3 separate regions of the Homo sapiens genome follow, and all the other regions are linked to region 2. Evidence: fine-mapped expression QTL. A gene starts in region 2. Each other region holds a variant in brackets. All regions are shown on one strand. Distances are from middle to middle.

Evidence for each region. PIP is the estimated chance that this variant, and not a neighbour inherited with it, causes the effect. A credible set is the group of variants that fine-mapping cannot tell apart.
Region 1: its variant is the best candidate, but not a certain one, in a credible set for the expression of ZCCHC7 in prefrontal cortex (CommonMind, PIP 0.76).
Region 3: its variant is the best candidate, but not a certain one, in a credible set for the expression of ZCCHC7 in tibial artery (GTEx, PIP 0.65).

Annotation. Positions count from the first base shown.
Region 1 is chr9:37,183,400-37,186,158 of GRCh38, reverse strand. All of the region lies in intron 2 of ZCCHC7 (zinc finger CCHC-type containing 7), which reads right to left. All of the region lies in intron 1 of LOC105376033 (a long non-coding RNA gene), which reads right to left. Among named protein-coding and RNA genes, the nearest start is that of ZCCHC7, 64 kb to the right of the region's middle. RefSeq lists an enhancer at 1,011-1,585. The variant A/CAAA (reference allele first, on the strand shown) is at 1,472.
Region 2 is chr9:37,119,198-37,121,956 of GRCh38, reverse strand. ZCCHC7 (zinc finger CCHC-type containing 7) reads right to left here and starts at 1,383. Exons shown (of 9, transcript NM_032226.3): 1 at 1,334-1,383. It overlaps LOC105376034 (a long non-coding RNA gene), which reads left to right and starts at 1,557. Exons shown (of 3, transcript NR_188580.1): 1 at 1,557-2,161. RefSeq lists an enhancer at 1,642-1,721.
Region 3 is chr9:37,300,480-37,303,238 of GRCh38, reverse strand. It overlaps ZCCHC7 (zinc finger CCHC-type containing 7), which reads right to left. Exons shown (of 9, transcript NM_032226.3): 3 at 1,008-1,051. Among named protein-coding and RNA genes, the nearest start is that of LINC01627, 93 kb to the left of the region's middle. RefSeq lists an enhancer at 698-747. The variant G/A (reference allele first, on the strand shown) is at 1,081.

The DNA of each region.
Region 1 (2,759 bases), 64 kb before region 2:
AATAATCTGAAAAAATTATAGCAAACTAAGTTTAATAAAACAGATTTTCCACACACCCCCAACCCCACAAAATCCCAGTGTGAGAGTTCAGGTTTACTGAATAATGAGATGGGAAATAATACAATCTCCAAAATATTATGTCCCAGAAAAAAAGTATAACATATGTACTGTATAATGTAAGATGCTTAGCAAATTGGCTGAAATTGTAAAAATAAATAAATAAATAAATAAATAAAATGCATGAATGAACAGATATTCCTGATAGTGCATCAAATAGTGTCCCCTCCCACAAAAACATATCCAAATTCTAACCCCAAGAACTTCTGAATGTGACCTTATTTGGAAACAGGGTCCCTCTAGATATAATTAAGGATCTTGAGGTGAGATTATCCTGAATTTAGAGTGGACCCTGAAACCAATGACAGGTGTCCATAGAAGAAAAAGAAGAAAAAAATTTGAGACCAAAGCCACCTGAAGACAGAGGTAAAGACTGGAGTGATGCAATCACAAGCCAAGGAATGCCTAAGATTACCAGCCACACCAGACACCAGAAAAGAGGCACAGACAGGCCTCCCTCAGAGCTCTACAAGGAACCAAGCTTGCCAACAGACTTCTGGCCTCCAGAACTCTTGAGAGAAGAAATTTCTGCTGTTTTAAGCCATTGAGTTTATGGTAATTTGTTACAGCAGCCCTCAGAAACTAATACATTCCTTTAAGTAGCAAACAAGAACAGTGTACATTTATATGCAAAATAATACATCATCTTATTTATTTAAAGGCTCTAAATTGTAACCTGATATTCACCTTATCATTTAACACCAGATCAAATGGAACACCCAGGAAGACTGCCTAAATGAGTGTCCAAATGATGGTAGATGATCACAACTCCTAAGGGATAGGAGGTGATCACCTATAGTATGTGTACCTAACATAGCAAGAGATCTTTTGCGGACTTTAAAATACAATAAAAAACCATGACTACTTGTAGATGGCACCCACGACCTCTAGAGACTGTTGGCCTGGTGTCTGCCAATTGCCTCCTGAAGTGTAAGCAAATAAAATAATATGTTTAGTTTCGAAGTACGGGTCAAGGGGACAACATGTTAAGGAAAAAAAAAGATCTCAGCAAGTTCCAATAGGCACATCCAGAAATCAGGTAGGTGGAAATCTAAGTTACACTAACATTCCTAGAAACCCACAGGAAATCTAAAAGACATAATAGTCCTCAGGGACTATTGCCATTCTAAAATGTGAATCCTTTTCTTTTCATGACCATTTAGAATGAATTTTAGAACATTCATACGTAAAAACAATGCCTTTCAGAAGTTACAATAGACCTCTCCAAATACTCAAAGAGTTATCCCAAAAACAGTCATGCAAGTGACTACTTCCTAAGAAGTATGCCTGAGCAAACCTATCCCACATGCAGCCTGAACTTCAACAACAACAACAACAACAACAACAACAACAA[A/CAAA]TCACCAGACAGAGGTTAAAACTTGGGTAATAAAATAGCATTTTATCAGCTGAAAGACAGTCAGATCAATAAATAAAGCTGGAAATCTCTCTCAGGGTATTCGTACTATGTATTTCCTTACTGATACCAAGTACAAAAGAGAAAAATTCCAGAAATAGAGGTGTCAGGGGATTCAGGATAAGAGATCAGGAGAGCAGGAATAGGATCCTGCCAGGCCCCATCAGTAAAACATAGAGCACCTCTTGCTCTCCCAGCTCTGGCATAACTTTTTAAATGCCTTTTTTTTTTTTTTTTTGATGCAAGCCAATAATGGGAATCTAGAAAACTGCCACTAAGGAGTTAAGTAAAACAGGGAATAATTTACTTTATCAATGATCCAAACCAGCCCCTGAATCATCAGATGATATAGACCAAGTTGATTCTTAGATTTCTATCGATTCAGTTAACAACATACACATATTACGTTGCTCCATAACAAAGTATGACACAAAAACAGTAAGGAATTAGCTCAACTAATACTTAACTACAGAAGGCTTCCAAAACGTACAAAATAACACAAACAAGTGTGAATGTCAGCATAATAGATACTGTTGAAAGACTTATTTGAGTATCTCTTCCTGTGGCTAGAAAACACATCTGGAAAAACACACAATTACAATACAAACACAATCCAATAAAAGTCCAACCCCTCTCTACTGTGCAGGGAAAGGAGGGGCTCAAGGCCATAGAAGGAGCTATGCTTGAATTTACAAAACTACCAGATGGCCAAGAGGGGACTAGATCAAGGGTAGAGGGCGGAATAGCATTGTTGTTCAGCGTGTAGACTCTGGAGCAAGAGGAGTTGGGTTCAAATCCTGAGTTTCCCACTTACTTGGGCATATTACTTTATCTCTTTACACCTATTTCTTTATTTATAAATGAGAGATAAAATTCATTGGGGTTGTTGATGTGAGGAGGAAAACAGTGAAAACATGTAAAGTGCTCAGGAAAGTAAAATAAGTAAAATATTTGCTATTAGCATTGAAACTGTACTCATCCATGCCTGGTAAACTGAAGCAAATTAACTGTTAGTTTGAACCATATAAAATGTTTATGTTTGTAGGTCAAAATACTCTGAATATCAACAACGCTATGGTTCAAATGAACATCAAAGAAAGGGCTGTGAAAACAAGTTGCTAAGAATGTCCATGAGGCCCAAAACCTAAAAAGTAATGTACTCACACAGTGGTTCTAAAATATAACTGAAGGAAAAGGATTTCTGCACCAGGCTGAAAACAAATAACATTTC
Region 2 (2,759 bases):
CACAATTGTCTAAAGGGTTAAAATGTCTGTCCATTTTTCAAATGCGATGGCCACTCTGAATCAAATCTGATTGGGATGGAGAATCCAAATGTGTAAAACAAAAGTCACAAAAGACAAACAGAGCACAGTATTTCAGTGGGGGAAAAAAAATAAGCTAAATTTAGTCACTTAAGTCCCAGCTCTTCTTGGGATATATATATGATTTTTACGAGAACTAATCCTATCCGGAAACATTTCCTTCACCTTTCCCTTAGCCCTTTTCCTTCGGTCATGCAGTCTCTTACCGTGCTAATTATCATATTAATATAATCCTCACTTGCGATCCTTCCTGACTTTATTCCCCATGCTCAGATTCTCCTGAAAGCATAACGCTTTCCTAAGTATACACACAATCCATTTAAAAGTCTTTGTATGCGACAGCCTAACTATTCAAACACGAAGTCATTTCTCTAACGGTCCTAGAAAAAATTTTAAAAAGAAAAAGAAAACCACAAAGTCAAGAGCTTCTGAGGGGACCTGAAAAGTCATCAAATTGAACGCTCTCGTTTTATAGTTGGAGAAAGGAGCTCAGAGAAACTTATTCACTGAGCTAAAAAGGCCCTACTAATGCAGCCCGTAATTCAACTGTGCAATCTGAAATAATCTTAAATTCAGCTTCAATAAGAGCTTTCTGGAATCGCCAGCGAATCCGTGGGGGAGCCACGGCTAGAACCCAGGCCTCCTGATTCCCAGCCACAGCTTTTCCACCGAACCAGCAGCTCTTCCCAAAAGTTGAAGGCAACTGTCCGCTCACAGGATGGGAGGGATAAAGGGCGCCTTAGTAAACACAGTCCAAGTCTACTCGTTTTACATGAGGAAAGGGTCACAGCTCCCGAAATTTTGGATTCTACTGCTGCAGCTGCTGCTTCTGACAGCAGAGGCGGGAGGTGGCCCAGGACTACTCGGTCCTCAAAGACTGGACTCTCTCTCGGCGCGCCGGGACCTCCGCGCTTCACTGACTGGCTTCCCTAGAAGACTGGGGGCCTTGCGGGGAAATAAAAAGGGCAGACACGCCACCCTCACCGAGGCCCTAGACGCCCAGCCGCTCTAGAATCACGGCATTAGCCCTTGGAAAGCCAGGGAGACGCGGACCCCCTAGACCCGCAGCCCGGCCGCGTGGGGCGGCGCGCAGGTGACGGACCAGGAGCTGCGCCCTGCCACGAGTGAGGGGCGGACGGGAGACGTCGAGGCCGGCGAGGGGGCACGCGCTAGTTCCACAGCCCGGCGGGCAAGAAGGAGGGTAGGCAGGGGTCCCGAGCCGCGGGCGGCGGGGGTCCGTCACACACATACTCACTGCCGCAGCTGCGAACAGGAAGCACCAACCGGGAACCAAAACGCGTAGAGGGACGGGGAGGGGCGAGGACAAATGAGGTAAGGAGGCCGCGTCCGCGCAGACCCGGGAGGGAAGGCACTTCCGGGGACAACACAGCTCTAGTCACCGCCTTTCCGTCCCCGCCCACCTGCCGCGCCTGATGTGCGCATGCGTAGTGGGTGCGAACCGTTCTCTGCCCCGCCCATAATTATTAGGTTTGCCTTCCTTGCTTTCCCCCTTCCCCTTCCCAACTTCTCTTGAAGCTACCTAGGCTGCATCTATTATTTGAATGACTCGTACGAAGGAGATGCTATTTACCGGGCAAAAGCCGGGGAGTTCGTGCCCTCTACCCCCGCGAGGAAAACTACAACCCCCATGAGGACACGGGCGAGGTTGAGGCCGGGCTCCGCCTCCTTCTCCCTGGCGCTCGGTGGACGCCTTCTCAGTGCCACGTGGCGCGGGAGCCTAGCTGATCGCGTGCATGACGAGGGCCAGCGTGGCTGGCTGCTTGGCCCGCAGACCTGGGCAGCGGGAAACGCGTACTTGAGAGCGCATGGCTTCAAGCTTCTCCCTTGCGCTCATGATCTTAGGCTGGTCGCTTTTTCTTTTAGGCGGAACACAGTTCACACTGGGCGCCTCCAACTCTCTGGAATTCTAGGCAACAGATTAACACTTTGTGAATCTCGAAGAGCTGCACTCCTGCTAAATATTGGAGTTAATGCTGATCCTTTGGAAGTCTCTGAAGGTTGCAAGATTGTGCTGGGAGCCTCTGGCTTCATTTGCCCTTCTCACACCTTATTTTAATACAAGGTAAACCCATCTGTAGAACTTTAGAAATAACTGTCGACCTAAAGGAAAAACTGAGGCAAAGTTAATATAAGTGGAGAATTTATTTGGGCCAAGTTTGATGAGGGCAACCTGGGATCATCAATTCAAGTTGCCCTTAATATGTGATCCGATAAGCAGCAGTTTCAACTGAGTTCTTTGTCTTGTGAAGCTCCAGGCTTAAAGGTATCGATCCTCCCACCTCTGTCTCCCAAAGCACTGGGATCACAGGCATGAGCCATTACACTTCTTGTAGCAGCTACGAGTGAATTTTTTTCTTTCTTTATGGTTTTTTTTTTTTTTTTTTTTTTTTTTTTCCTGAGACGGAGTTTCGCAGTTGTTGCCCAGGCTGGAGTGCAATGGCGCGGTCTCGGCTCACTGCAACCTCCGCCTCCCAGATTCAAGCCATCCTCCTGCCTCAGCCTCCGAAGTAGCTGGGATTACAGGCGCCTGCCACCACGCCCAGCTAATTTTTGTATTTTTAGTAGAGTCGGGGTTTCACCATGTTGGCCAGGCTGGTCTCGAACTCCTGGCCTCGACCTGCCAAAGTGCTGGGATTAGAGGCGTGAGCCACCGCGCCCGG
Region 3 (2,759 bases), 180 kb before region 2:
TGCCCAGTCTGATTTCGAACTCCTGACCTCAGGTGATCCACCCACCTCAGCCTCCCAAAGTGTTGGGATTACAGGTGTGAGCCACCACGCCCGGCCAGCCACTGCTGATTTCTATAACTGAATGTACACCATGTTTTTCTGAATGGGAGGGCTACTTAAATTTTGAGTTAGGGAATGGTGTTTTTATGACTTTGTCTTTTGTAAAGTTAGTACAGCTACCCAATATATCCATTCTTTTGAACAGCACAGGGTTACTGCCTACAAGACTGGATGATAATAAAAGACTGATAATCCAGTCTTCCTTTATAGAAATAAAGGAATGAGATAATTTCTTTCCACTGGAATCCTTTTAAGATCCATTCTGCCTACAGAGTGACCCAATTCTAACTGTCCCATATTCTAATCTAAATCTAGGATCTTGTAAGAGAGTACCAACAATGCATATCATATGGAATATCTAAAGAGGAACTGTAAATCCCAACCATGCTTTAGCTTGTTTGGTAGAATTCCATCTTTAAAAAAGTTTTCATCTTTTATTTGTTATTTTGCTGAACTGGCCAAGTGGACCACATGTAAGTACAATCTAGCTATCTCCCAAAACCAAGTTATAAAATTATTCTCTTTTTGTAGCATCTGCCACAATTAAGGCTAATAATCGACAAAGACAAACACCTGCCACATCCTAAAAATAGACTAACCATTTCCTTACACTGAAGAAGCAGTTATTTCCGGTGTTGATCTTTTTAGTGGTACCAGGCCATATGGGCTGAGAGGACTCACCGCAGGAGAGAAACAGAAAGGGAAAGGGGACTGGATGATTACAGCTATTAACTCACTGACAAAACTCAAGGCTGAACCAAGTTTCTGAAGAGTTAAATCACTCATATGCTAAAATCAAATGTTTTCTTATAAGCCACTTAAACTTATTAATGTTCCAAAAGTTATCATAATAAACTATGAAGCAAAGGAAATTATTATTCTGAATTTTAAAAACAATTTGATTTTACCTCAATGTCTTTGTCACTGATGGACCAGTTTATACCATCTTCTCCTACAAAACAAATAAATTATTACTTAACC[G/A]TGGCACTTTTAAAGGACTTATAGATTGACAATAGATTACACAATTTATGAGTACTCAAATTGGACCCCAAAGGTACACTGAGAAATGTTGAATACCTGAAATTCCTATTTTGGCTCTGTTATTAATTATGTGGCCCTGGACAAATACTTAACCTCTCTGAGTCTCAGTTTTCTGACCTGTGAAATGGGATAATAGTATTTTCCCTGTCTGCCTAAAAAGTCCTGTGAGAATAAAATGAGGTATGTGAAAATACATTGAAAAGCATCAGACTACATACAAATATTAAAACAAAAAAAAATCAGTGAAGGGCCCAAAAATACAACAGCAGATGCAGAATGAAATCTTAACTTCTTTTATCTGACTAAAGCAGAGCTTTACTGAGGCAGCTGTCACAACCCTCTCACACCTCCAGGAGGATCCACAGGAGGGAGATGACTGACACTGGGCACTGAGACATAACAAAAAAATTGTGTAAATGAGATCTTTCTGTCCTTTGACTCCCTAAGCTACCCCCTCTTGTTAAGTTGGTATATAGCCCCTTACTTCTTGTTTTTTTTGGAGACAGGGTCTTGCTCTGTTGCCAAGACTGGAGTACAGTGGTACCATTTTGGCTCACTGCAACCTCCGCCTCCCAGGCTTAAGCAATCCTCCCACATCAGCCTCCTGAGTAGCTGGGACTACAGGAACTTGCCACCACGCTAGGCTAATTTTTATAATTTTTTTGGTAGAGACAGGGTTTCACCATGTCACCCAGGCTGGTCTCAAACTCCTGAGCTCAAGAGATCCACCCACTTCAGCCTCCCAAAGTGCTGGCATCTGTGGTGTGCCACAGCAAGAGGCATAACCCCTTACTTCTATAACCCTCTAAACTCTTCTTCAGAGTTACTGATATTGAGTGCTCCTTCAAGTGTGAATAAACCTTATCTTTTCTCCAGTTAACCTGTCCAGTATCAGTTAACTTGCAGGCCCACAATTTGAACTCAGCTTGGTAGAGGAAAAGTATTTCTACCAAATATGAGTATTAACTGTGTCCACTAGCTTTGCATTCTACATGACTTTCATTATAACAATAAAAAAATTAGACTCTGAATAATATCTCACTAATAGGGTTAGGTTCTTAGCACTGTATTTTATAACATCAAAAACAGCAAAATAAAAGAAAAAAAAGGAGGCCAAATATCCAGAAACCACTGATTAATCTAAAAATACAACTGTAAAAACCTAGTGGGGGAAATAATCTCCCACATTTTCTTGTATCAGCTATTTTCTTTTCTTTCCACTGTCCTTTCACAAACGTGCAAATGGCTGCTATTCCTTTGGTCCACCCATGGCCAAGGGGGAAGGGACCTATGACTAATGCAGAAACTAAAGTGTTGACAAAAGGACTGAAAGATCTTTTTCTCCCTTTAAAGCTAAGATTTCCTCTGTCCTCCTACCTTACTACTTTCCTCTATCTCAAAAACACAAATCAAGCTTGACTTGTTTCTTTGAAAGGCTTTTGAAGAGACATGAAGTAATCTACATTTTCCCAGGCCTACCAGGAGTAAGTGTCTAGAGATATATTTTTAAATAAAAAACTTTTCTAAGAAAACCATGAGGCTGCTTTACAAAAAGACCAATCCACAGGTATGCAGAGATGCTGTGCTGATGATTATTTTCTTTGTAACATTTGGAGGCT